4 linked regions of the Homo sapiens genome follow. The protein of the gene in region 1 interacts with the protein of each later gene in a biochemical or structural test. Each region holds a gene or a part of one and is shown in the gene's direction. Other genes may lie near its edges. The genes, in order: ACTG1, WIPF1, COTL1 and GZMK.

Evidence for each region.
Region 2: the proteins of ACTG1 (region 1) and WIPF1 form a complex in vitro, tested with the Homo sapiens proteins (one study listed by BioGRID).
Region 3: the proteins of ACTG1 (region 1) and COTL1 form a complex in vitro, tested with the Homo sapiens proteins (one study listed by BioGRID).
Region 4: of the proteins of ACTG1 (region 1) and GZMK, one has a biochemical effect on the other in vitro, tested with the Homo sapiens proteins (one study listed by BioGRID).

The regions. Positions count from the first base shown.
Region 1 is NC_000017.11:81,509,795-81,516,813, reverse strand, and holds ACTG1 (actin, cytoplasmic 2), read left to right. Parts: upstream 1-4,014; 5' UTR 4,015-4,080; exon of another isoform or gene 4,081-4,199; intron 4,200-4,453; 5' UTR 4,454-4,459; coding exon 4,460-4,582; intron 4,583-4,671; coding exon 4,672-4,911; intron 4,912-5,187; coding exon 5,188-5,626; intron 5,627-5,705; coding exon 5,706-5,887; intron 5,888-5,980; coding exon 5,981-6,124; 3' UTR 6,125-6,843; downstream 6,844-7,019. UniProt on the Homo sapiens protein: Actins are highly conserved proteins that are involved in various types of cell motility and are ubiquitously expressed in all eukaryotic cells.
Region 2 is NC_000002.12:174,594,796-174,602,192, reverse strand, and holds the start of WIPF1 (WAS/WASL-interacting protein family member 1), read left to right. Parts: upstream 1-4,388; 5' UTR 4,389-4,592; intron 4,593-7,397. UniProt on the Homo sapiens protein: Plays a role in the reorganization of the actin cytoskeleton. Contributes with NCK1 and GRB2 in the recruitment and activation of WASL.
Region 3 is NC_000016.10:84,608,055-84,615,078, reverse strand, and holds part of COTL1 (coactosin-like protein), read left to right. Parts: intron 1-7,024. UniProt on the Homo sapiens protein: Binds to F-actin in a calcium-independent manner. Has no direct effect on actin depolymerization. Acts as a chaperone for ALOX5 (5LO), influencing both its stability and activity in leukotrienes synthesis.
Region 4 is NC_000005.10:55,020,031-55,027,255, forward strand, and holds the start of GZMK (granzyme K precursor), read left to right. Parts: upstream 1-4,225; 5' UTR 4,226-4,292; coding exon 4,293-4,356; intron 4,357-4,629; coding exon 4,630-4,777; intron 4,778-7,225.

The DNA.
Region 1 (7,019 bases):
AGCACCTGGCCACTCACAGCCAGCTGCCCAGTGACTCCGCAGGGGTGGGGTGGGGGGCAGCCAGCTGAGCCTTCTGAGCTTCAGTCTGCGCAGTGGGGCAGGAGAACCAAGCCCCAAGCTGGGCACCAGCCAGGAGACAGAAGTGTGGGACCCTGGCCTTGTCCCTTGAGCCAAAACTCAGAGGCAGCCAGGCCGAGTTGCAGGAAACCAGCCTTGCCCACCGGGACCAGCCTTGGGACCACTGTTCCTGAAGAGGCAGAGCCCACTCCAGACCTGCCCAAGGGAGCCAGCCAGGCCCTGGAAAGAGCTTCAGGAAACAGGGCCATCACCTTGCATTTCATCTGTCCAAAAGGGTGTGGGAGAAGAGGGAGGTGGGCTGAGAGTAGGGAAGCTTTGCTTGCCTTGGATTCAAGTTAGCTTTTTATTATGGGAGAACTTTAAACTTACAGAAAAGTTGCAAAGACAGTGGGAAGGTTTCCCAATGCTCTATTCCCAGTGTCCCCTAACCTGGCATCTTACACGGTCATGGGACAACTGCCATAACTGAGAGATTAACCTTGATACTTACGGCCAAACTCAAGGCTGTGGGCTTTGCTAGTTCTTCCACCACTGTTCCTTTTTCTGTTCAGGGTCCATCGTTTCATTTAGTGGTGGAAGATGAGACACTCCAGGCTGGGTGAGGTGGCTCACGCCTGTAATCCCAGCACTTTGGAAGGCCTAGGCGAGTGGATCACTTAAGGTCAGGAGTTCAGGCCAGCCTGGCCAACATGGTGAAACCCTGTCTCCACCAAAAATGCAAAAATTAGCCAGGCATGGTGGTGCACGCCTGTAGTCTCAGCTACTCGGGAGGCTAAGGCCCGAGAATCGCTTGAACCCCGGAGACAGAGGTTGCAGCGAGCCAAGATCGCGCCACTGCGCTCCAGCCTGGGCGACAATGAGACTGTCTCAAAAATACAATAAAATAAAATATAAAGAAAAAGTAGACATTCCAGGCAGGTAGAGTGACAGAGGCAAAGGCTAGGGGTGGGGACCCATGCCCACGCCCCCATGTCTGTCTGACAAGTAGCCGGCCAGGTGGTTGGCGGTGGGGACTGGGGGGCCCTGTCAACTGGTGTGGAGGTGACCCAGAGTCCGGGGGCTGATCCGGTGCAGAGGGAGGAACAGGGCAAGGAGCTGGAGGTGGGGCAGTGCAGGCCGTGGAGGGCGCAGGCCCTGGGTTAAGCCTCAGCTCTGCCATACCTCCCTGGGCCACTGTTGTCGTATCCACTAAATGGGCCGAAACTAAAATAAGACATAACAAGGTCATGATAAAAAGCCATCAAAACCAGCACTGAACTAGAAAAGAAAAATCACATCGCTTCTCCAGGCCCCAAGTCTCCCTTCCTGAAATGTGAAGGACACACCCACCTCTGGCGGAAGTGCAGCTGCCGACTCTCCCGGCTCCGGAGGCCGCCCAGCTACCCCCAGCTCCATCCATGCGGTCCCCTCCCCAGGCCCAGCTGCCCGGCCCTCTCCGGCACTGGTTCCAGAAGGGTGGCGGCTGCCCTGCGCCACTGGCTTCCCAGAGCATATCCAGGACAGGCCCCGCGCGACCTTGGGCGAGGCCCCGCTGCTAAACAGAAAAATCACAGCGCGCGGTCCAGCCCCCTGCGCCCCGCGGGCTCCAGGCCTCGCCCTGCCCGCCCGCCCGCATCCCAGGGACAGGCAGACCCGCATCCCCGCCGCCGTCGGTCCCGGGACTCCCCAGGCTCCGAGGCCCCCCACGCCCGGCTCCCGCCCCGACCCCTCGGAGGCGCCGGGCCACTCCTACGCCCCGAGGCTGCCCGGCCGCCGCCCCTCTGTCCCGCGCGCCAATCGGCGGCCTCCTTGACTAAATAAGGCCAGGAGCGCCGGGCGGGCGCCCCCCGTCCGTTACTTCCGCCCCCCGCCCGCCGTGACTCAGGCCCGGCGGCGGGCGGGGATGGCGCTGCCCCGGGCCGGGCTTCCCGGCGGAGGCGGGCGGGGCTCCGGCGGCGCCGAAGTCGCCAAATATGGCCGCGCCACCGCCCCCCGCCGCGTACCTGGGCCACACCTTGACCCCTGCCGCGTGACGCGGCCGCGGAGGAGGAAGTCGCTCTCCACCCCCGGCCCGCGGCGGCGTCCCCTCCCCGCCCCTCCCCGCGGCTCAGGCCCTGCGGGTGGCGGGGAACCCGGGGGTCTCGAGGCGCCAGCCTCGCCCCCGCCCCCACGACCCTGGCGGCCTCGGGTCCGCAACGTGGGGAAGAAAGGTGGGGGACGGGGACGCGCGCCCGGGGCCGGCACCTCCCCGCACTTCCTAGACAAAGAAGCTTCGGAGGAGACCAGAGACCCGGAGGGGCAGGGTCCCCGGCCGGCCCGGAGCAGAACGTAGTGTGGGGTGAACGCAGGATGGAGGGGCTTGTGGCTATTCCCCACCCGCCTCGTGTCCCTCGGTGTGTGACGTCGCATCTTGGGACCCCCCAAGTGGAAGTCCTCACCCGGGGGTCGAGCAGGCTGTGTGGTTCTGCCCAGGGACGCGAGTCCGGGTGGGTCTGTTGGAGGCCCAGCCCCGGCTTCGCCACGGGAGGGAACATACCTGACAGCCTTGCCCGGGCCCCCGGAGATTCTGGGCCTGGGGGCGCTCAGCACCCCTGGGAGGCCTGGGGCACGGGGGCCTTAGGCACGGGTCTCGGCGTCCGGGCTGACTGCAGCCCGCAGGTGAGCTGGGCCGGCCGCCTTGCCCTGACTCGCTGTTGTCACTCCCAAACACGGGGTCGCGAGCTAACGTTGCAGGGCCCCGGACTCCGCGTGGGGACCCCGGCCCCGCCCCCCAGCCTGTCGAGTCAATCTGAACGCTCTGCGACCTCGGGCGAGTCCGTCCCCTCACTGCGCGGCCTCACTGCCACCCCTACGCGGCCGGCGCTCCAACCCTGAAAATTCCAGCAGCGCACAAGGAAACCGTAGTGCCGGGCGCCTCTCGGGGTGTAACCAAAGCACCGGCGCCGCTCCTGGCGAGGAGTGAGCGCCCTGGACAAGCCTGTGGCTAAACCCACGCCAGCCCTGATCGCTGCTCTTAACTAGCATCGTAAACAGAAGAGGGTATCCCCCCGACCGCCCGAAGCTGGGGAGCCGACCTTCAAAAAAGTCAGGGCTCCCATTGTCTACCTCAGTTTCCCTATAATGTCTACAGGTGACCAGAATGAAACAAAGGCCTCACTCCACACCACCTTCTCAGCACATAAGGGGGCGGGGTAGCCCCAACCCGGAGCGCGCGCCTGGGGACAATCAGGCCTGTGATTTGAGGGGCAGGGATGTGTCGGGTCGGGTAGAAAGGGGCCTCGGTCTTCAAACGAACGGAGATCCGGGGCAGGGCGCCCCGTGGAGGGACCTGCATGGTGGTGGCTGCGCTTGGGGACGGGCGGGCTGTTTCCTATGGTGACCGGGGCGAGGTGAGGGCTCCTGAGAGCTCCCCCGCGCCCAGGGACGCAGAGCGTCGCGGACCCCCGCCGCGCCCCTTCCTCAGCCCGGCACTGGCGCCCGAGATCCTCGTGGAGCCCGAGGGGAAAGATTGCAAGGGACGTCCCAGGGAGCAAAGCCCCGCAGCGTGGCCGGGGACTCGGGGACCCACCCCAGCTCCGGCGCGGCCCCGCCCCGGGTCAGGCAGTTTCGGGGCGCAGCAGGGCCCTCCCCACGGCGCGGCAGTCCCGGGGAGGGGCCAGGCCCGTCAGCCCTTCGGCCCTCCCGGCGACCCTCGGAGGGCGCCCCAACTCAGACCCGCCCGCCGGCCCGCGCAGGGTCGCGAGCGCGCGGGGGTGGCGCGGGCGGGGCCGTTGGGAGGCGGTGCGGGCTGGGGGCGGGGCGGGCCGGGGCCCCACGTGTCCCTGCCCGGCGGGCCAATGGGTGCCCGGCTTTCGGAAAGATCGCCATATATGGACATGTTCTGGGGCCGCGCGCGCCGCCGGGCCGCGCGGGCGCGCCGCTTCCGCTTAAATAACGGCGGGGGAGGCCGCGGTCGGTCTCAGTCGCCGCTGCCAGCTCTCGCACTCTGTTCTTCCGCCGCTCCGCCGTCGCGTTTCTCTGCCGGTGAGCGCCCCGCCCCGGGGCCTGAGCTGGACGTCGCAGGCCTGCGCCCCCCGACCCCGGCTGGCCCCGCTTCCAGCTGCCGAGGCCTCGTCGCGCCTTCCCCGGGAACAAAAGGCGGGGTGGGCCGGGTCAGGCGGACGGGGCTGGGGGGGCGCCGGGGGTCCAGGGCGGGGCCCGGCCGCAGTGCAGACTTCCGAGCCGTGGACGTTACGTAAAAGGCCCGGCCTTCGGTTCCAGGCGGTTGCGATCTTGGAGGCCACGGCCGCTGGGGTTGGGGCAGGGCCGAGGCTTCCCCGCGGGAGGGCATTAGGTGGCTGTGGGGAGGGGACCGTGTTACAGACGCGCCCGCCTGAGTCCATCCTTTTCCGGGCAGGTCGCAATGGAAGAAGAGATCGCCGCGCTGGTCATTGACAATGGCTCCGGCATGTGCAAAGCTGGTTTTGCTGGGGACGACGCTCCCCGAGCCGTGTTTCCTTCCATCGTCGGGCGCCCCAGACACCAGGTGAGTGGATGGCGCCGCGGGGCTCCTGGGTTCTGCGTTGCGGGGTGGGTTCGGTGTCGCCGGCGAGGCTGACGGGTCGTCCCCTGCAGGGCGTCATGGTGGGCATGGGCCAGAAGGACTCCTACGTGGGCGACGAGGCCCAGAGCAAGCGTGGCATCCTGACCCTGAAGTACCCCATTGAGCATGGCATCGTCACCAACTGGGACGACATGGAGAAGATCTGGCACCACACCTTCTACAACGAGCTGCGCGTGGCCCCGGAGGAGCACCCAGTGCTGCTGACCGAGGCCCCCCTGAACCCCAAGGCCAACAGAGAGAAGATGACTCAGGTGAGGCTCGGCCGACGCCCGTGCTCCTCCCGTCCTTTCCCCAGTCATTTTCTGCCCGGCTTGATTTCTGACATTTAAGTGTTTCTTTCGCTGTTCCAGGCTCTGTTCCTCTCCCGGCATTTCCTCCCTGAAGCCTCCAGGTTTCTCATTTGGTTTCTGCCTGCGTTCTTTTCTTTTCTCCACACATCACACTGGCATGCAGCATGTTGTGGCGTGTGAGCATGGGGTGGCCGTGGGTCTCTGTCCCTGACTAAGCCGCCCCTTGTCCCTTCTCAGATTATGTTTGAGACCTTCAACACCCCGGCCATGTACGTGGCCATCCAGGCCGTGCTGTCCCTCTACGCCTCTGGGCGCACCACTGGCATTGTCATGGACTCTGGAGACGGGGTCACCCACACGGTGCCCATCTACGAGGGCTACGCCCTCCCCCACGCCATCCTGCGTCTGGACCTGGCTGGCCGGGACCTGACCGACTACCTCATGAAGATCCTCACTGAGCGAGGCTACAGCTTCACCACCACGGCCGAGCGGGAAATCGTGCGCGACATCAAGGAGAAGCTGTGCTACGTCGCCCTGGACTTCGAGCAGGAGATGGCCACCGCCGCATCCTCCTCTTCTCTGGAGAAGAGCTACGAGCTGCCCGATGGCCAGGTCATCACCATTGGCAATGAGCGGTTCCGGTGTCCGGAGGCGCTGTTCCAGCCTTCCTTCCTGGGTAGGTGTTGTGAGCTAAAGGTTTCTACTCTTACATCCTCGGTGACACAGCATCACTAAGGGAGGGCTCTGTCCCCTAGGTATGGAATCTTGCGGCATCCACGAGACCACCTTCAACTCCATCATGAAGTGTGACGTGGACATCCGCAAAGACCTGTACGCCAACACGGTGCTGTCGGGCGGCACCACCATGTACCCGGGCATTGCCGACAGGATGCAGAAGGAGATCACCGCCCTGGCGCCCAGCACCATGAAGATCAAGGTGAGTCGAGGGGTTGGTGGCCCTCTGCCTGGCTCGGGAGAGCTGACTGGGGGGCGCTCTGTGAGCTGAAGCCGTGCCTGGCTGTCTTTGCAGATCATCGCACCCCCAGAGCGCAAGTACTCGGTGTGGATCGGTGGCTCCATCCTGGCCTCACTGTCCACCTTCCAGCAGATGTGGATTAGCAAGCAGGAGTACGACGAGTCGGGCCCCTCCATCGTCCACCGCAAATGCTTCTAAACGGACTCAGCAGATGCGTAGCATTTGCTGCATGGGTTAATTGAGAATAGAAATTTGCCCCTGGCAAATGCACACACCTCATGCTAGCCTCACGAAACTGGAATAAGCCTTCGAAAAGAAATTGTCCTTGAAGCTTGTATCTGATATCAGCACTGGATTGTAGAACTTGTTGCTGATTTTGACCTTGTATTGAAGTTAACTGTTCCCCTTGGTATTTGTTTAATACCCTGTACATATCTTTGAGTTCAACCTTTAGTACGTGTGGCTTGGTCACTTCGTGGCTAAGGTAAGAACGTGCTTGTGGAAGACAAGTCTGTGGCTTGGTGAGTCTGTGTGGCCAGCAGCCTCTGATCTGTGCAGGGTATTAACGTGTCAGGGCTGAGTGTTCTGGGATTTCTCTAGAGGCTGGCAAGAACCAGTTGTTTTGTCTTGCGGGTCTGTCAGGGTTGGAAAGTCCAAGCCGTAGGACCCAGTTTCCTTTCTTAGCTGATGTCTTTGGCCAGAACACCGTGGGCTGTTACTTGCTTTGAGTTGGAAGCGGTTTGCATTTACGCCTGTAAATGTATTCATTCTTAATTTATGTAAGGTTTTTTTTGTACGCAATTCTCGATTCTTTGAAGAGATGACAACAAATTTTGGTTTTCTACTGTTATGTGAGAACATTAGGCCCCAGCAACACGTCATTGTGTAAGGAAAAATAAAAGTGCTGCCGTAACCAATGAATGGCTCCTGTTTGGGGAAGTAGCAAGTGGGCTGGGAAAGACAGACCAACCTGGAAGTATTGGGTAGTCTTGGGGGTGGGGGCGGTGGGTGCTGCTCAGCTTGGCTTCGTGGGCTGGTGAGAAAACGGCTTAACAATAAACTGAGCAGTTCGATTTCTTCCAAATCGAAAGTG
Region 2 (7,397 bases), on another chromosome or scaffold:
TTATGTGATTGGTCTGCGAGCCTATTGGTTATTGTTTTACTCTGTCATTAAGCTCAGACTGATGCATATTAAATGGGAAAGAGATACGCATTTAAAATTCTCTTTAAGTCCAGAATTGTGATTGTCTTTATTCATCCAGGCTTTCAATCCACTTATCTCAGGCCTTTGGTTATAGTATAACAACCTCTCCCATCCGCATCACAGCCTTTCTCTCCACCCTCTTTCTTCTGCCTCTTCTTGTACTTACAGAAAGGAGGTAGGTGGTATCACCCGAACCTGAAATGAGGCTAAAGACATTAATGGCGCTGGACAGTGGAGTGGAGCCCAGGCTTTGGCCACTGCTCTGCTGCTGCCAGCTGTGTGACATGAGCAGGATGCCTAACTTCTCTGGACCCCTGTTTCTTCCTCTGTAAGTGGTGATGTAGACTTTGATCTCTGCAAGTCTCCTGCAGCCTTAAAGTTCTTTTCTTTTTAAAGAACGTGGCTGCTGGAAAAGCTGACACTGAGCTGAGAACTCCGCTTCACTGCGGAAGGCCAGACAGCACTGTTACATCCAGCACCTGTGGGTCATCCACTGCAGAGGTGGCTTCCAAAGCCTCTGAGGTCAGCAGTGTGGTTGTAGCTCTCCTCTACCCACCACATGATCTCTCCCCATCTCCAGCTTTTCTTGCCTTATTTTCTTTATCTTTTTATTTCCCCCCCTTCCTTTCTGATTGTTCTATTTGTTTTCAATTTTCTTAATCCATTTTTCTCTTCACATTGCCCAATGGTGTAAGCCACCTGCACTGCATAAGACTCTGCCTGCACTGCCAGGCCCACTGATGGGCCAAGGGTTTTACCTGCTGACCTTTTCTCTGGAAAATTTCCCTTTAACAGCTTCTCCCAAGAAGGCTTAAGTCTAGTCTTGGCATTTGTTATTTACCATTTCAGGGGGAACAGTCTTAAGCTTTTAAAGGAACATTATGCTGGGCAGCGTGGTGGTTCACACCTATAATCCCAGCACTTTGGGAGGCTGAGGTGGACAGATCACTTGAGGCCAGGAGTTGGAGACCAGCCTGGCCAACATGGCGAAACCCCGTCTCTACTAAAAATACAAAAAAAAAATTAGCCAGGCGTGGTGGTGCACGACTGTAGTCCCAGCTAGGGAGGCCAAGACATGAGAATCGCTTGAACCTGGGAAGTGAAGATTGCAATGAACCAAGGTCATGCCACTGCACTCCAGCCTGGGTGACAGAGTACGACTCTGTCTCAAAAAAAAAAAAAAAAAAAAAAAAAAAAAAGGAACATTATGCTGTAGTAGAATTCGTAAGAAACATTGATTTTCTTTTCCATTCAACAAACACTATTTTCAAACACCTGCATTAGATGCTGAAGCAACAGCAGTCAAACACCTGCATTAGATGCTGAAGCAACAGCAGAAACAAGATGGACAAGGTCCCTGCTCTCATAGAGCTTGAATTCTAGTGGAGAGAAACATACAAGTAAATAAACAGATAAATAAGACAGTGTCAAGCGGTGACGCATGCTATGCATAAAAGAAAACAGCAGAAATGGGTCATGAGGGAGAGCATTTTTGCTGACATTTGAAGAATAAAAAGGAACAAAAAGATGAGTGTACCAGGCGTGAGTACCAGGCTTGCAAGTAAAAGGCCTGAAGATGCAAATGAGCTTGGTGCATTTAAGGAACAGAAAGATTTGGAAGGTAAATTAGCAAGGCAGAATATTACTTGAGATGAAGGCAGAGAGTTAAGGAGGGGCCAGATCTCGTGGGTCCCTGTGGACCTAAGAGTTTGGACTTTTTAAGTGAAATGAGAAGTCATTGGAGGGTTTTAAGCAGGGGAGGAACATTATCTAATTTATGTCCTAACATGCATAGTAGACACCTGATAAATGTGTCCAAAGTTGACTGTAGGAATAGACTCAAACTACACAACTACTCCCTTGCATGTCTTGGGGACTGCAGCCTTCTAGGTGACATACTCCCTTCTAAGTGAGCTTTTCCTAAGGTAGGGGTCTCCAACCAGTCTATGGCCCCTTAGGAACCAGGCCACACAGCAGGAAGTGAGCAGCTGGTGAGCAAGTGTTCCCTCCTGAGCTCTGCCTCCTATCAGATCAGCTGCGCATTAGATTCTCAGAGGAGCAAGAATCCTAAAGTGAACTGTGCATGCGAGCTCCTTATGAGAATCTAATGCCTGATGATCTGAGTTGGAGCAGTTTCATCCTGAAACCATCCCCACCCCCTGCCCCCACTCCGTGGAAAAATTATCTTCCACAAAACCAGTCCCTGGTGCCAAAAAGGTTAGGGACCACTCCCCTAAGGGATGGAAATAGCCATGAATGGTATGTGTACTGAGAGAGAGAGAGAGAGAGAGAGATAGCTAGAGAGAGAGAGAGAGAGAGTGTGTGTGTGTGTGTTTGGGGTGTCTTACTTAGAGAACTTCAAAATAATTCTGAAAATACGTAGAGAAATTGTCATATCGCCCATGTTCTCTTTTTAGACCCAACTATAATTAGACTTCCCCAAAGATTCACTCAGGCATTTACTTAATAGTTGATCAAGTTTTCTGTTTTCCTGAGGGTTTGTATCGCGGGAAGTGGCTGATAGCTGTAGGCCTCCACCTCTGTCCAGCCCCATGCCTGCAGGTATTTATTTGTGACCTAAGTCACGGGTGGACACCAGGCCAGAGTTAGACAAGAGGCGGTCCCTGCCTTCAAGGGGCTCCAGGCAAAGCAGAGGACTCTCAGTCACTTATTCTTGGGTACTCCACTCCAGGAACTGTGCCCATGGCCTGGCATCATGAATCTGCTCATGCAATTAGACTCCTATCTCAGGGAATTTTGAGTTTAAAAGATCCTTAGACATCATCTGTCCCAGTACTCCCCAGTAGGAGCACTTCTGGTATTTTGGGTGGGACTGTCATAAGCACCATAGGAAATTTCCCATTCCTGGCCCCACCCACTGAATGCTACAGGCCCCTGCCCCCACCATTCCCACTCACTGCTCACCACCCCCAACAGCTACCTGAGTTGAAAATTACTCATCTAGCCCAGTTCCATCACTTTACAGGTAAGGCAATGTTAGACAACATACGTTCTTTTCATGCCTCTGGCCTCTGATCCTAGCAGAATCAGGACCCAACATTCAGATTTTACAATGAAGCTAGTTTCTGAAATATGCCTCTCTTTTAAATTCTTTGACTGTTACTGTTTTCTCAGAGTTATATACTATGTGTTGCATATGTAAGTCTGAACCTTTAAGATGGGTTAAGAAAAAATTATGAGCATTTTCAGATCGTTCTATACATAACTCAAGGTTTTGATAAAATGTTTTCTACATGTATTCCATTGCCATCCACCTCTTGAGTTCTTTAATAATGAGAAATCTGACTTTCTTCCTTCCACCCTCTTTATCTCTATGCTTTTGTCAAGCATCTTCTAGGAGAGTTACTGTTATCCCATTAAGTGTGGGGGACAGAAACATTTGGCATAGAAAGCTATGGATCTGCAGCTGACTTAAGCTGTATATTATTACCCTGACTTGGGCACCAAAATCACGTTTCAAAACTCATTTGCTGCCAAGTATGGTAGCTCAAGCCTGTAATCCCAGCAATCTGGGAAGCTAAGATGGAAGGATCACTTTGAAGCTAGGAGTGCAAGACCAGGCTGGGCAACAAAGCAAGATCCCATCTCTACCAAATATAAAAATAAAATAAATTAGCCAGGTGCAGTGGCATATGCCTGTAGTCTCAGCTACTCAGGAGGCTGAGGCTGGAGGATTGCTCGAACCCAGGAGGTCAGGGCCACAGGGAGCTATGATTACGCCACTGCACTCCAGCCTAAGTGACAGCAAGACTGTCTCTCTAAAAAAAAAGAAATAAATAAAACAAAACCAAAAAAAGAACCTCATTTGCCTTCATACACCTGACCTGCTCTCTTTACCTGCATTTGTAACTTTCTCCCCACACACTTGAATGCCCTGTAAATGAGAAGAAGCCCTTAGCCTAATGAAGCGATAAGGTAAGGTAGGTAAGAGCTTTTCTTTCTTGAGTGACTCTTTTCCCTATTACTCAATGGAATAGTCAGTATTTACAGTGATACTTTCAAATATAATTTTCCTAAAGGAATCTCAAGTTCCATGAACAGTTATTTTTGTGGGAATATCTAGAATAAAGTTGGACTCTTCACTGAGTGGAGGTGCTCATCTCCTCTTGTCACTGTACCAAATAGCTGTGTATTACACCTTGTGGGGAGGAGAAACATTTAATTTTTTTTAATTTAGGTTTTTTTTCTTGCTTGCTTCTTAAGCAAAACCAATCTAGTTTCTTTTTCTGCAGCAAAGGAGGAAGGAACAACAAACAACAAATTAATCAGACAGGAAGCGAATAACCACAGAAGGACGTCTGCCTCTGACTCAGTATGTCACATTTAACAAGAGGCCAGAGCTTGTCCAAAATGGCTGTCCAAAAACGACCCCACACTTGCGTTAGAAGATGATACCTTTTTCAGGGACAGTTTTCTCTCTTGGCTCCTGTCCCGCTGGCCCTCTGTCTGCCTGTGTCCCTGACCATGGCTCCCTGCAGTACCCTTTAACGGTAAGAAAAATTATATTCAAACTAAGTTTATTTCATTTATCAGCTACAGGGAAGAACTAAATGGCTTTTAATGGACCATAGTATGTCAAGATAAAGTTGTTTAATTTTTCTGTAGAGCACCATGTGAGCTATTCCTGTTGCCCAGAATGCTAGTTTCACCACTATGGTGATTGTGAATGATTCATAACTTATGCTTTGAGCCAAAATGTAAGCAAGATTTTCAATAGAATTTTTTTGACCACTGGACAAGTTTGGATCCACAGGAATTTATTTTCCCATTTAAATTGGGGGCTTATGTCGGTAAATATATCCTTTTGGTGTATGATACAGTTGTCCACACAACTGCCTTTGAATCTTTGGTGTGGCCAGCAACAATAAGTGCTTTAAAGTACAAGGAGCCATTGGAAGCTTCAAACGAAAATACCATGGAACTAAGCTGTTGCAGTTCTGTTGCTGCCAATGTGCTATTTAAGTTCAAAACTCAAACTAAACCATTTCTAAGCAGAGTCTTTTATAATACGATTTGTCTTTTAGAATAAGTCTATTCCTGTTATAACAGTGTGTGCACAATTACTATCGCAAATCAAATTCTACAGCATTAGTTATAACTTTATGTTTAATATGATTAATGTTTTGGCATAAAATATTGTGATTTTTAAAATTTCAAGCCATCTACTCAGAGGCTTATAGAGCAGAACTAAGGAAACTTTTTACATTAAAAAACTTTTTTCTAGAATATGTAGGAAGAAACAATTTGACTTATGTTCCTTTCTCCCCGTGAAGAAATATAAAATAAAGCTTTAAAAAACTCAGAAGGCACATATAACTTTAGTCACTAAGTACAAGTTTTTTGTTTTTTTTGTTTTTGTATTTTTAGTAGAGACAGGGTTTCATCATGTTGGTCAGGCTGGTCTCAAACTCCTGACCTCAAGTGATCTGCCCGCCTCGGCCTCCCAAAGTGCTGGGATTACAGGCATACAAGTTATTTTAAATAATTTAATGGCATAACTAGTATATGTAGTAGAGAATGGAGAGGTGGTAAATGAAAAGGCTACTGAAAGATTCTAACTAAGCAAAGTAAGACAGCTTGGTAGAGAGAAAGATGAAAGACTGGGGAAAGAATAGGACAGGACAGTGAGAAAGGAAGATGAGAAACTGGGAAAAGGTTTTGAGGTTGATCTGTGTGGAAATCATACTCTTACAATTCACTTGGACTACAGTGCTATGTGTTAACTTTATCAAGCTTTGTTCTTCTGTACTGGAATATCATCATGTCAAAACTCTTCCTTTTATCAGTCTAAGGTCATTAAATGACTTACCTGAAAGTCATTTTTCACTAAGTCAGGTTTTCTATTGCTCTTTGAAAAGTTTATTCATGGGCTATTTGCTCATAGCGCTTCAGCTACTCTAATATCTAACCTTTTAAGGGTTACACATACTCTGGGTGGACTGAAATATTCAGAGAACTCCCTGTGGTGAAAATTAGTTCCTGGGATCGAGCAGCAACTTCAGATCTGATCAAATTCTAAATCTGGCCTGTAGGCTGGAAGTTCCCCAGCCTACCTAAAATATGAGATGAAGTGATACTGAATTCCTGGACCCTTTAAGTGTTATGACCTTTTGAAGCCTTCTTAACATTTTATGAACACACATCATTTACTTTGGAAGTTTCTGGCTGTTTAAATTATGATATATTTCTGCTTTAAGGTTTGACTCATTTTGTCCAAATTGTTAAACATGTGCTTGTTGTTGAAGAAAGCATTTCTCCTGGACTTCCATAAATACCTCTGTCTGTCCTGAAAATTAAAACTGTAAAAAAATACTAGAATAAGGAATGCCTTAATCAGTATGCTTTTCTGAGAAATTTGAAATGCACTTTATACACATCTCCCTTCACCATTCACTTGTAATATGGAAGTTTGCATGGGTGTACACACATAGGCTGATTTAAATCAGCTCATGGTTTCTCTTTCTCGTGGTTAAATAGGGGGAAAGACTGTGATATTTACTGACCACTTATTTTGTGTTACGTTCTTCACCTTTGCTTATTTTATTTTTTGAAAATGGCTAATACTTATTAAGCACTCCTTCATTTAACTCTTGAATAACCCTACTAAGTAGGTGCTATTATTTTGAAAACCGGACTTACATAAGCTAAGTAATTTACCCAAGGCCACCTAACAACTAAATGTGGAGGAAGTTATCTGAATTGTAAGAGCTTTTTTTCACAAGTGCAGCTTGGAAGCAACATTATAAATTGTATGATTTCTGTTTTTCTTTTTCTTTTCTGTTTTTTTTTTTTTTTTTTTTGAGACAGGGTTTTGCTCTGTCATCCACACTGGAGTGCAATGGCATGATCACAGCTCACTGCACCCTCAAACTCCTGGACTCAAGCAGTCCTCCCACCTCAGCCTCCCAAGTAGCTGGAACTACAGATGTGTGCCACCATGCCCAGTTAATTATATATATATATATATATATATATATATATTTTTTTTTTTTTTTTTTTTTTGTAGAGATGAGGGTCCCACTATGTTTGCCCAGGATGGTCTCAAACTCTTGGGCTCAAGCTATCTTCCCACCCTGGCCTCCCAGAGTGCTGGGATTATAGTCATGAGCTACGACACCCAGCCAGTATGATTTCTTGAGGTGCTTTTCCGGCCTTGGGAATCTGAGATTACAAATGTTTTGCTTTAAATGTCACAGCAACAGTAAATATCTTTAAAACTAACAATCTCAAGTAAGATATTTTCCTTTTTAAGTCTTTTCACTTCTTCAGAGGTAAACTTGGTGACACTTCTGCTT
Region 3 (7,024 bases), on another chromosome or scaffold:
TGGCTGGATAGCAGTCACCACGCTCGACGTGCCTTATCTTGGTCATACCTCAGAACAGCCTGGTGTGGCAGGTACTAAGGTTACTCCTATTCTACAGATGAGGAAACGGAGGCCCAGAGAGGTTAATAGGCTTCCTGCATTCACCCAGCTAGAAAGTGGCAGAGTTGGGACTTGAACCCAGGCAGGCTGGCTCGGGGCAGGTGCTCTTGGCTTCTGAGGAGGTTGTTTAGATTCTCACCTCTCGTGGGATTGCTTGCAGGTTGCAAATGACATGGTTGCCCACTTGTGACTCAGAGAGGGCTCTTTTGTGGCCCCAGTTCCCTGCCAGGTATCCTGACAGGCCTGAGAAGAAAGGTTCCACTCTGGTTCGGGCTTCCTGCTTCCAAACATCTCACAAGGTGGCCAGCAGACTTGGAAGGCCAGAAACAGCACCCAGTTTCTTCCTTATAACCTCAGGGTGTGGGCCTTCCTGGGGTCCTGCTCTTCTCCCAACCCTCCCCACTCTGGCACTCAGGCATTCTCTCTGAAACACCCCCTTCCCTGGCCCTCCCACCTCAGGCTACTGTCCCTTCTCCCCTTCCTCCCCCACGGCTTTCCAGAATGGGATCTCTCCACCCAGCCTCCCCTCCTCATTTCTTCCCAGCCTCCTGGCCTGGCCTTTCCTCCCTCAGAGCTGTTTTCCAGAGGGCCACGGGGTGTCTGTGCTGCCAGGCCAGTTCCCTCCCACCCCCGCACTCATCCTCCCAATCTTTCTGCCTGCTCTGGGTCTGCGCTGCTTCTTCCCGAGCTTGCCTGGCTCCCGGCCTTCCTCGCTGCCTGCCCCTCCGCTACCTCCGCTCTTGCTTCTTGCTCCATAGCTCAGTTCGCCTGGGATGGTCAGAGACCTTGCGAGGGCGGTGAGAAATGCCCAGTGCAGATTAATGTAAGCAGAAAATCCACTGTGGCCTCTAGCCTGGAAACTCCAGGGGAAGTCCTAGCAGCAGCAAAGACTGCCCGAACTCCAAACAGCCTCTCCTCCTCCTCCTAGCTCTGTCTTCATCCTTCACCTCCATTCTTGCGGGGAGGGGGGAGGTTTAGCCCCTGGGCAGAGCCATCTTGGTGGAAAGACGGAGCAAGCCTCTTTGCCAGTGATTTTGGGGGTCCCTGGACTGTCTTTGGCCCTGAGGTCATGTGCCCATCCCTAGACCAATCATGGAGACTCTGCGTGGCCAGGCCTGGATCACATGCCCACCTCTGGAGTGGGTGGGGGGCGGGGCAGCCCCACTCAAACCAGGAGACTGACTTGAGGAGGTGGCTTCCTAGGGAAGAATGGCATGCCACTTTCACAAAAGTGTCCATTTGCCCCTTAACATCTCTGCTTTCCTCTTCATAGCAACAGTCTATTTGCCCTTAATCTTCCTTGTCTGGTATCCACTCTGTCCTCCCTTGCTGGGGTAATTCTTTCTACAGTACATTTCTAATCAAGTCACTCCTCTGCTCATTAACCTTCTATGGCTCCCTTCTGCCCCATTGGATTACACTCATGCTGTCTGCTTGGCTTTCTAGTCGGTTTGTCCCCACCCATATCTCCTCTCTAGTAGCTCCACACACCCTCCCTCACACATCTGCAGCCCAACACTGTAACATTTCCCGTCTTGGTGCTTTTGATTTTGGAGGTTTCTACCATGCGGTATTCCTCTTCCCCATCTCAACTCATTTAGGACTCAGCCACCCACCTAGCTTAGTGTGATTCCTTCTTCATTTCAACTCTGAGTACACTTTGGAATCAGAAACACTCTAGTCCGGGCGCCGTGGCTCATGCCTGTAATCCCGGCACTTTGGGAGGCCAAGGCAGGTGGATCACTTGAGGTCAGGAGTTCGAGACCAGCCTGGCCAACACAGTGAAACCCTGTCTCTACTAAAAATACAAAAATTAGCCAGGCATGGTGGCCGGCGCCTATAATCCCAGCTACTCGGAGACTGAGGCGGGAGAATCACTTGAACCCAGGAGGCAGAGGTTGCAGTGAGCCGAGATCGCGCTGTTGTACTCTAGCCTGGGCAGCAGAGTGAGACTCTATCTCAAAAAAAAAAAAGAAAGAAAGAAAGAAAGAAAGAGTCATTCTAGATTGACATCTCCGCTCTGCTTCTCACTCATTGTGTGTGTGGCCTTGGGCAAGTGCCTCCCTCCCTCTGTGCCTCAGTTTTTAGGTCTGTAAAATGGGAATCCTGACATGCCTACCTCTGAGGGTGACTGGGAGGGTTCACTGAAGTAATGCACCTAAAATGAGAGCACAGGCCACGGTGTGTGTTGGCTACCCCTACCACTGCTTTTCTTTTTTTTGAGACAAAGTTTTTCTCTGTCGCCCAGGCTGGAGTGCAGCCTCTGCCTCCCGGGGTCAAGAGATTCTCCTGCCTCAGCCTCCCAAGTAGCTGGGACTACAGGCATGTGCCACCACACACGGCAAGTTTTTGTATTTTTAGTAGAGACGGGGTTTCACCATGTTGGCCAGGCTGGTCTCAAACTCCTGACCTCAGGTGATCCACCTGCCTCAGCCTCCCAAAATGCTGGGATTACAGGCGTGAGCCACCGCGCCCGGCCTCAAATAATTATTTTTACTCTGATAGCACTCGTAGAGGCATTATGCTTTCCACTCGGAAGCTTTCAGTACACGTCCCCACTCAGCACAAAGTAGGCACCTGGCCCAGGCTGGTATGCAATAGGCATTTGGCCCCATGTGGACACGCATTAGACCCTTGGCCCGGGTCTGCATGAAGGAGCATGATGAGAGGTGCTTAGCTCAGTAGTTCAAGGTTTGGGTTTTGTCCGATTGCCTGGGTTCAAATACCTGCCATTCATGTGCTCTGGAGCAGGTGAGTTACCCATCTGGTAACCTGCTACAGTGTGGTCATTAGGAGGATTAAGGAAGCAAGTCCTTATGCTGCTTGGGACATAGTGAGCACTCCATAAATGTCAATTACTGCGATTGCCATTTTTGTTTTTGGAATTCAAGTGATGTGGAAGTAGCGTTCAAGAGCACCAAGAAGATGGAAGGGGGAGAGATGATGGGAAGGAAATGGGTGCTGAGCTGGGCTGGAGGGTCACAGGTTCACCTGACAGAGCCACTGGGAGCCTGGAGCAATCAGGGCTCAGCTGGCAGAGGTGGAGGGAAAGGGGCCATTTGCCAGACCGGTTGTATGATCTACCTGGCCACAGCAGAAAGGGCTTACAGATCACGTATGTGTGGCGAGGCAGTGGCTGGGGCTGTCTGTGAAATCACATTTTGTTTCTGCACCATTCAGATAATACATATTCTCTGTGGCATACTCATAAAGCAAGACTAAACCAAAAGAAGAGAATACCAAGTAGATATAGTTCAGATATAGTTTTGCAAACACTCAGGAACTTGTTCCTTCCTGTGTTTATTCCTTCATTCTCCTGTTTATTCATTTAATTCATTCGACATATGGGACTGCTACTCTGTGGGGCACGACTGTAGGCACTGAGGATAAATACAGAAGCAGAAAAGGCGCCTGTCCTCGTGGAGCTGACATTTTATTGTCATCTCCCAGGACAGACCGCTGGTCTCATTTTTATCTATATTCTTGAAATAGTTTTCTGTATGTAATTCTACTACAAAAGGGGATCATAGATATTTTAGAGCCACCTCCCACAACAACTGTAATGCCAAAGTTTCTTCCCTATCTTCCCCTCTTCTTCTGCAATACCAGTTTAAAAATGGCTACGTAGTTTCTCTCATACAAATGTGACATTGTTAAAGCAATCCTCTATCCATGGACCTCAAATTATGTGTTGCAAGCAGTTTTATTTTAGAAGGAATCCAGGCATCTGGGAATGAGTCCAGTTTTCTGTTGGTGCAGATTTTAGAGCTGATTGGTTAAGAGCATCAGTGGTGAGGCTGGGGCGTCTTGCTTTGAACGATAGCCTTGCTGTGCTGTGTGACCTTGGGCAGATCTCCCAGGGTCTGTGTTTTCTCGTCTGTAAAGGTGGGGATAATGATTGCATGTAGGTTGCTGTAAGGATAAACTGGCTTGTTCCATATAATGCTTGTAGAGTACTGCCTGACACAGAGTAAAGCTCAATAAATGTGGTTATTGTTAAAGTAGCACCTTCAGAAGGTGTTACATATCAATGGATAGGTTGAAATAAATTTGAGATGTGGGGTGGTTACCAGAAAAGGCTTCTTCATGAAGGGCAGCATCATGAAGATGCTTGGTTGGAGGCAGGTGCCCTGTGACATTTGTTGGATGATGGTCTGGGTGGAGATGATATTCCCATGAGGCTCTGGTCAGCCAGTAGTGTTTAACCCAAAACACCACAGAGAGAGATGTAGAGATTGATGTTTTTTTTTCTGTCCAGCATTCCCTCCTTTGGGGGAACCTCTCCCTTCCATTTCATAATAATCCTGGTCAACCAATGTAGTTCCTGTGAGAGTGCACATAACCCAGACCTGTCCAATCAGAGCAAGCCACTCTTCTGCTAACCGATTGGTTCAAGGGCCCTTGTGACTCAAATCTAGCCAATCAGATTCATCCCTGAGACTTTGGACAGAGTTGTTGGTAAAGAGTCTTTTTATCTTTCTCTGGGATTAAAACAAATAAGAATAATGAGGGCTTGGAGCTCACAGGGCATGTCTACCATTTATAGAGAGTACCTGTCTGAGAACTCAGGAACAGAGCCTGGTGGTGGGAGTGGAGACAGGTGACGTGCCAGAAAACTCTGGGATCCAGCCATGCCTGAAGCTTTCTCTTTAGACGGTTCACTTTCATGAGCCAAGTAATATTTTTTCTCAGGCCAGTGTGAGTGGGTTCTGGATTTAGTTTCCATCTAAAAGAGTCCTGGCCATAGTCTCCAGGTTAGGCAGCTGGACACAGTCTCAGAGGAGAGGAGAATCCAGGCTGGACAAGGAATTTAAAGCCTCTCATGTGAGAACTGACTGAGGAAATTGGGCATATTTAACCTTGTGAGACCAAGAGGAGAGATCCTTGGGAGACACCAGTGTTGTCTTCAGATGTTTGAGGGGCTGTCATGTGGTAAGTGTGGACTTCTTGTGTTCCTACCCCCACACCAACCCTATGTGGTAAATGGGACCACGCAGTAGGAATTCAGGGATAGTGTGTTAGTCTCTTCTCACGCTGCTATGAAGAAATACCCGTGACTGGGTAATTTATAAAGAAAAGAGGTTTAATTGGCTCACAGTTTTGCATGGCTGGGGAGGCCTCAGGAAACTTACAATCATGGCAAAAGGGGAAGCAAACACATCCTTCTTTACGTGGCAGCAGGAGACAGACTGAGAGCCAAGTGAAGGGGGAAGCCCCTTATAAAACCATCAGTTTTGTGAGAACTATCACCAAAACAGTATGGGGGAAACTGCCCCCCTGAGTCAATTATCTCCACCCCGTCCTGCCCTTGACACTTATTACAATTCAAGGTGAGATTTGGGTGGGAACCCAGAGCCAAACCATATCAGATAGATTTTGGGTTGACCTGGAGAGGAAGAGGCCCTTAAGGTAGAACGGGCTACCAGAGGAGAAAGTGAGGCCCCCATCACAGGAGGTATGTCAGGAGAGTCCGACTAACCACTTGGCATAGATGTTGAAGAAAGGATTGAAGGAGGCCTTCCTTGCCTCTGCACTCTCCTGTCTCACAGCCCCATTTTCTGGCCTGCTATGCCTCCAGGAAGACTGACTGGCCTTAGTGCAGGCCTAGGGGATGCCTCTTGGAGGTGGCATCAGCCCTACCTGGATGACAGAGACTGAGAGTGGCAGAGAGGTGGTTCCTACGGAAAACTGGAGTATAGCGACCAAAAGAAGGGAGCTGGAATGCGAAGGAGTCAAATTCACTTGCTGTCCATGACCTCTGCGTATATGGCAATACAACACACAGAGAGCCGGCAGTCTATTTATCGTGCTGTTTTGCACCTGAATATTTTTTCCCTAGCTGAACATACACACCCGGGTTTCAGAAATTTGGGCGAGAAGGGAAGGAGAGAAATTGCTTTCTTTCCTAAGGTCTAAGGGAATGTGACATCAAAAAGAAGCTCCAAATCTGTGACAGGGCTTTGGGCAGTTATAAAGTGCTGAACAGTCTGTCCGTTAATGCATGCGACAAACATTTTATTGGGTTCCTACTTTGCTCCAGAAACAATGTTGGGTTTTTAATTTAATTTAATTTTTGAGACAAGGTCGTGCCCTGTCACCCAGTCTGGAGTGCAGTGGCACGATCTTGGCTCACTGCAACCTCTGCCTCCCAGCTCAGGCGATTCTCCTACCTCAGCGTCTCCAGTAGCAGGGACTACAGGCGCCTGCTACCACGCCTGGCTCATTTTTGTATCTTTTGTAGAGACAGGGTTTCACTATGTTGTCCAGGCAGGTCTCGAACTCCTGGGCTCAAGCGATCCACTTGCCTTGGCCTCTCAAAGTGTTGGAATTACAGGCGTGAGCCACCCCGCCCGGCTGGGTTTTTGTTTTTAAGTGGTACCCTGAAGGGCTGCGAAAACATTACCTTTGTAATTTTCTGCACTATCCAGTCTCCCATTGCCTTCTTTGCCCACAGATCTGTTGCTGGGAGGCCCTGAGCCACGCTGCATAGCTTTTTTGTGTGTCCACAGGGGCGTGGGCTTTGTGGTAGCTCTTTCAGTCTACTGCATGGTGATGTTTGTGCTTTCTTTTCTGTTTGTGGCTGTGTCACCACAAACAGAAAATGATGAAGGATGATAGATGTGTATCTTCCTGGTAAGTACAGTGTCTCAAGTTCAAAAAAAGCATTCCCTAAACACTAGGTGAATTGGGTTTTTGTCCCTTGAAAATATTCAGAAGTTAATGCAAACTTTTTGAAAGCATCCCTTACAGATTTTATAGGTGTTATAAATACCTCCTTGTCTCCCATCCTTTCTTTACCCCATTTCATTCTGGTGCCCACCCACACCCAGAGCATGGAGCTCTATGTCTAGGTCTTTGGTAAATATTCCAGTTGCCAGATTTAGTGGTCATTTCTTTGTCTCTGATCCACTTTACCTCCCTCCAG
Region 4 (7,225 bases), on another chromosome or scaffold:
CCCATGTGGCACTTTCCTCATCCCACCCATAACATTTGAACTTAGTTAAAATGAACATCAAAGCCTGCTCTAAAGAAGAAAAGAAAAAGGAGTCATAAAAGGGCAGTGTAAGGCCTGGAGACAAAGTTGAGATAGGGACAGTGTATGACCAGGCAGCCAGCACCAGCAGTGCTGGGACATCCCTATTTGCCAAGTCCTCAAGGTATTTTCCTGATTACTCCATATGTGAGGATCCTGCACTTAAGGCAATTCTCATCCATTCCAGTCACTTCATAGCTGACGTGGAGAGGAGTAAAGGAAAAGGAAGTTGAAGTACTATTGTGTGACTTAACTCAATAATGATGGTTTAGAAAACGTATCTTCATATTTATGAAAGGAAGATTTAACATGCAAAATATATTCTGATTTAAAGTTGAGATAGAGGAAGACAAAACAAATTTCCCTCAATCTCACCTTTGCCACCACCATCATTCCACCAAGAAGAGGCCCTAGAGCAGCCCTCTGAAGTATTTACATTTAAGTTGCTTAGGAAAAGGCAGTATTCCAGGTGCCCCAACCCTTATTACAGCCCCAGCTCTGAGTTGAGGGGTACTTTGCTTTCCTTGCCAACTGCCCTTAAGCTCATTCATTTTAAGGACCTAGTGGGAGGGATGGCTGTAATCTGAGGTGAGATTTACATTTTCTTGAGAACTTCGGACTTAATATCATTATATAGCACCCCAATATCCTTCCCAAGCCCAATTTTCAAAGCTGCCATAGTTTCACTATGGGTGTTAGCAGATACATTTACCAAATTAGCTAAGCCATTACTGGACAGAAGTCAAGGCCTGAAGGGTGGTGGGCTACAAGGGAGGGATCCAGTGAAATTCTGCCAAATCCTGATGTCAAGTGCCAAGGGCTGGGGATGGTTGGATAGCTTGGGAAAACTTGATATTGAGAACATTTTTCAAAGGAATGTAAAAGGGAATAAATGGGAAGAGCTTGAAACAAATCTGCTTTGCACTTATGTCTACAGAGCAGTGTTTCTCAGACTACCTGTGGGAAAGACCAATGTGTTTGGAGTTTTAGTTTGTTAATTTGTTTGTTTTTAGTTTCAGCCCATTGTGAACTGATACGTTTATACAACACAAATAAATAGAAAAAAGTAATTAAATAAAAAACAAAGGCATACAAAATACACACCCAATTTTTATTAGATTGGACAAATTTTATTTCATTAATAAAATAAATTAATACAGTGCCATGTTAAGTCGCTGTTACAGTTTCTAAACTCTGGCTCTCAATTTCTGTCCCCATCTTGCTCCAAATCGGTAACAAAGAGGTTCGGAGACTGGCACAGGTCTGCGGGCCATGCTTTGATTGGCATGGCTCTAGGGGGTGTGGCTTATAAATCTGACAGAGCAGGTGTCTGGGCTGTTGAAGAAAGGCAGTCCAAGGGATAGAACCACACGAGGCCTTTGGAGCAGTGGCACAGCTGTTCTATAAGGGTCTCCTGAAACACAGGAGAAGCAGAAACAAAACATCTCTAAGAGCAGCAAGAAAGACAGCTAAACACAGCAAAGAAGAGCCACAAGGCTATGACGTGTGAAGCCAGCCCTCCTCTGAGCACAGCCTTGCACTTGCTCAGTCCGGTACAGTTGCTGTAAAGCCATCCAAAGCAAACATGGCCCTCCCTGCAGCAGACTCAACAGAACAAAAACCAACACCCAGAAATAAATTAGATCGCCGAGCTCATCATGTTACACAGCCCACTGTTCTCAAATCCAGAATCGTGAATATAATAACAAATGATACTATTAACTGGCAAATCGGTCTAAAGCCAAAACCAAATAACTCATTACTATTAACCAACATGATTCTCAGAATTTTCTAGGTCAGCTACAAGAAAGAGTTATGAGACTCTTCCCAACTGAACTAAATCTCACCCATGTCTAATTACACGCAGTGTGTATGGCTAAATCCTTTTTCTCTTCTGCACAGCTAGCTTGTGTCTCAGAGCCCCTAAACCCCCAGGGACTTCTCAAAGGAGGCAGGCATGTAGCCAGGTTGAAAGGAACATAGAGCCGGGAGCCAGCACATAGGAGCTTAAGGGCCACCTGCTAGCTCGGTAATCTCAAGCAAGTCCCTGAATTTCAGTTTATTTATCCATAAAACAAGACTAATGACAACCACTTCCCTGGAAATACAGCTAAAAACGTTCAGCAATTTGTACAACGCTATGTGGACATTAATCCTTACTACTCAGAAATAAGCAGCTGAGAGATGTTTGTAACCATTCCCATTTCCCCCGCCACACACACACACACACACACACACAAAGCTTCGTCCTTTACAATTTATTTCTTCCTTAGAGTTTGGATCACTTCTACCTGTCACACACCATCTTCCTTACGATCCCAGCATCACTGGGATGTAGCAGGGAACTGACGCCATCCTGTCTGCCTTCCAATGTGGAACAATGGCACACAGTAGAGCATCCAAGGTACATCAACAGTGACAAAGATGACTTGAAAATTCACAGGGACATTTGAGTGGGAGTAATAAGTTTGGTTTATTAAGCTTGTGGCTTTTCTTAATCTGGCTCCTCCTTATCTCACCTTCTGCTCTGACAGGAAGTCACTGCTCTGCGTTGGTTTTGTTCATTCTGTTTAACATGTAGAAAGCTTTACTGTTGCCACACACCTGTACAAGGAAAGCAGGTTTTTTATAAAATTCTGTGTTCTGGGAGGGTACTCATTCACATACAACTTAACATACAGGGAGGTCAGGCAGGTGATTTGGTCTAGGTCATAAGCTGTGTTGCCTTGGGCAAATTACTTAGCCTCTTGGAACTTATTTCTTCCATTGTAACATAAGTTGTCCTGCTTTCCTCAAAGACATAGACATGAAACCATAAATGATCATATAAAAAGAATTTTGGAAATAAGGTATTTTACTTATATATTATTAAGTTATAATGAATAATACATAATTATAGTATTATTTTTTATTATTCCTACTCTTTGTGCTAGAAAACAATTTGAAAGGAGTCTCTTGCAATCTGCCGAGCATAATAGCTCTGGATTTTAATTCTCCTTTCTAAAATGAATGGAAGATAAAATGCATACCTCTTAAAAGAAAGATCTGTTGATTTAATGCAAATTTTGATCAGTGTTACTAGGAAGTGATTGGCATTCTGATGCGTGATCTGTTTGTATTCATTTTATATTTGCACTGCTGATCAGTGTCTGGCACAAACAGAATCTTGTAGAATCTTGAGTCTAATACCTTTTGTATTGAAGGCCTGGCAATGCATTGTCATCTGTTCCTGGGAAGAATTACAAAATGCAGTCCTTTATTTTTAAAAGACATTATTATTAAGTCCCTGGAAAAACACATGGCCATTTTCAATTAAAAATGAGTAAAAGAGAGACTCTGAATCAAAAATAGTTGCCAATGTTCACCTTTAACAACATTATGAAATCTCACAAAAATGTAACTAAAATTTAACCAAATTTGGGCAAACTTAGAGAAACGACATGAGTAGGGATGTTTGCTGCAAAACATATGGTTTTCTCTGGTTGGTGCTCAGGCTTTAGCTAAGCCACATTGTGAAGTAACCATAATCTGTGCAAGGTCCATGTCTCTCTTCATCATAAATCTATGTCCAAATGAAAAAGAGAGAAGAATGAAATATGATAGGCACCATTTTGTGCCAGGAAAAATAGTAAGTATTGCTTGAGAGCAATGGACATCTTTGAACTCTGTCTGCAACTTCATTACATTCTTATGGCATGGATATTTTTCATTTATAAATATTATATACACATATAGTATAAATTTTCTTTATAGCATAAGTACTCTGATACAGGTATTAGAGATGGTATCTCCAGATATGAGTTCTTTATGGCATACATACCTCTCCCAAAAAAGTGCTAAAAGCAATTAGCCGGATGTGGTGGTGGGCGCCTGTAGTCCCAGCTACTCGGGAGGCTGAGGCAGGAGAATGGCGTGAACCCAGGAGGCAGAGCTTGCAGTGAGCCGAGATCGCGCCACTGCACTCCAGCCTGGGCGACAGAGAGAGACTCCGTCTCAAAACAAAACAAAACAAAAAAGTGCTAAAAGCACAGACCTGAAAGTCCCCAAACTGATACATAACGTTTACACCTAGGTGTGAAAAAAAATCTTACCCCTAGAGCACCTGTGGTGAGAAAGTCAAAACTTACAAGAACAAAACTCAGTCTTCAGAATCTTCTTCCTTCATCACAGGATCAACACATTTCATCTGGGCTTCTTAAATCTAAATCTTTAAAATGACTAAGTTTTCTTCCTTTTCTCTGTTTTTCCTAATAGTTGGGGCTTATATGACTCATGTGTGTAAGTATCTCCTATATCTACATGTAAACATTAAATGAATTTCTACTGACTATATTGTTATATTATAGATGAAAATTATTTTCACAATCATTCCTATCTTTCTGAACTGTAATGTATTATACAAATTTTTCATCAGTAAAATTATTGTAGCTTTTAGGTAGGGTTATTGTTGTTTTTTAAGCTTTGAAAATAATATAGTGACTGTCATTGGAAGAATTACATGAAACAGTAGTTTAGATCTTTTGTGTGAAACCTTTTGGTCTACTTTTGTAGGTTTCAATATGGAAATTATTGGAGGGAAAGAAGTGTCACCTCATTCCAGGCCATTTATGGCCTCCATCCAGTATGGCGGACATCACGTTTGTGGAGGTGTTCTGATTGATCCACAGTGGGTGCTGACAGCAGCCCACTGCCAATATCGGTGAGTCCTCCACACTTTTCCAGACATGTGTTTTTTCTGAAAGTTATTATAGGTACAAGAGAAGCTTACCTCTCCTGAATGAGAATTTGATCTACTGTTAGCTTCTGTGGTTACTGACCAACTGGTGGCGTTTATTTACCTTCTTCCACATCCACGCTTTCTGTCTTGGGTTTTCCTTTTCAGAGAGAACTGAGCTGCTTTTCCCAGGCAAGACATTAGACAAATTCAAGTCCTCTGTATAATGCAGGGAACACAGCAACAGTAATACTTGAAGCAGCAGTACTCTTGACCTTGTTAGATCACACTGCTCAAAAGGAAATCAGACAACCTGAGCTTGCTCTGTGCTCTGAGCTTCCCCATTTTACAAAGGGGTAATAATCATATCATACCTGCTTTGTGGGTTTTGAGAATTAAATAGTATCTGTTTAAGTATTTTAGCATGCTTGGCACATTTAGTAAGCACAAAAAAATTGCAGCTATTATCATTAGTATTATACGCATGAGAAGCCTACTTTGCCACTCCTAACAGTAGCTACCTAACAGTAGCTACTCACCACTTACAACTTTCCTAGGTGGAAAAAAACAAGTTATTGATGACTTCTAGAAAGAGAAAGATAATGAGAGAGTTATTTTCTAGGATACTTAGAATGAAAGCTTTTCTGAAGACAGAGTAAAACCTTCCAAAGTCCATTTCAGCCTAGGATTCTCTTACTTCAGCTAATAAAGCACAAAACCCCTCTTGGGATGCTGCAACCATCACAAAAGGAAATGCCAGTAGAAAACTAATTTGGTATTTGTTGTTTTGTTTGTTTGCTTGGGTTTTTGGTTTTGTTTTTTGTTTGTATATATGTTTCCTTATGTTTCTTACCTAATAAGCTGAAATGGAGCCTTCTCCTTTTCTTTCACTTAAAGATCTCTCTTAGCTGTAATGGTTTGCTCTCCAGGCATTGTCTATATCTAAACAGAACAATTGAATTGATTTGCTTTTCTATGCTTTGGGGGTTTTGTCTGATTACCCCATTTAAATGGAACTGTTTGATCACAAATTGGAAGTTTTGAAGCCTGCAAACTGGGAGATCTTCTGCTATCTCTAAATAGCAAGCCACTGATTTCCAATTTAATATGGTTACTTCATTTACACAGGGTTCTTGCCCTCATAGAAATCACACTCTCATCCCCATCACTTCTCTCTTCTCCAGGGCATTTGCCCCCTCGAGATCAGAGAGACAGAGTGGGGAACTGTCAGCGAATGTTCATTTGATGCAAAATATGCACATCTTCAAATATGCTCATAATACACATTCAAATGGTCTATAACCTCCCCAGACACAGAGCTTGACTTCTAAATGTTCAACAAACTTTGGATGGAAAGAAAGAAATACACTGAAAGATCTTTCTTTCTTTCTTTCTTTCTTTGGCTAGGCCTGAAACATGGTGTATGAAAAAGTGCTTCACTAGCCATAAAGTGTTATAGGAAATTAAATAATATCACTAAGTTGAATTTTAAATTTTGTCAAGTGGATTTAACTCACGAGAAGCGGATTCCCAAATTGGGGAAAGAGATTATTGACAAAAGACTGGAGAGAGGTCTTGGAGTTTTTTGTGTTTTGTTTTTTTTTTCTTAAAACAAACTATTGCTAAATATCATTTTAAATGGCTGGGGTATAAAGAACTGCAAAATATGTAGATCAAATTTCCTCTACAGGACACTTGGGTGTAAAAAGTAGGCAGATCGGTGGTTGGAAAAATATTAAGCTTTATGAAATTCAAAATATTTACAAAATAGCTCAATGGTGGCTTCCCACAAATGTACTCCCCAGTATCCTGTGGGAATAGTTTGCCCCAAGCCTCTCTCTCAGCAAAATTTTGAAGAGGGCCAAACCTGGGAGTGCTCCCTTCTCACCAGCCATCCACACATCTCCTCCCTCAATATTCTGGCCCCTTTATTAGTTGCCATGTCAAATATAAAAGGAAATTGATAAAAAATGTCCTGTACAAACTTATTTTCAGCATTTTAACTTACCAGAAGCAAAACTCTCACCAGCTGTTGTACCCTGTTCTCCTGATTCTCTCCCAGGCCCCTCTCACAGAGCACTTCCTCCTGCCCCAACCTGCCTAGCAAGTTGTTAGATGGAACCTTCCACAGCCCCTTCCACATGGCCTCACTCCATCTCAAATGCTCAAGGCTCCTGGAACAAAATGGTTCAATGTTCAGGCTCTAGATTCAAGCCAACTGAGCTTTAATCCTGCCCGAATTTGCCTCCTGGAGGCAAAGGTCCTCAAGTTTATTCGTTTACCTGAACCTCAATTTCTTCATCTATAAAATGGGGATTGTCATAATACCTATCTCACCACGCTGTTGTGCGGTTTAAATGAGGGAAGCTTTGTAAAATGCTTAGCACAGAACACAAAGAACTTAATAGATGTTATCGAGTATTGTTATACAAT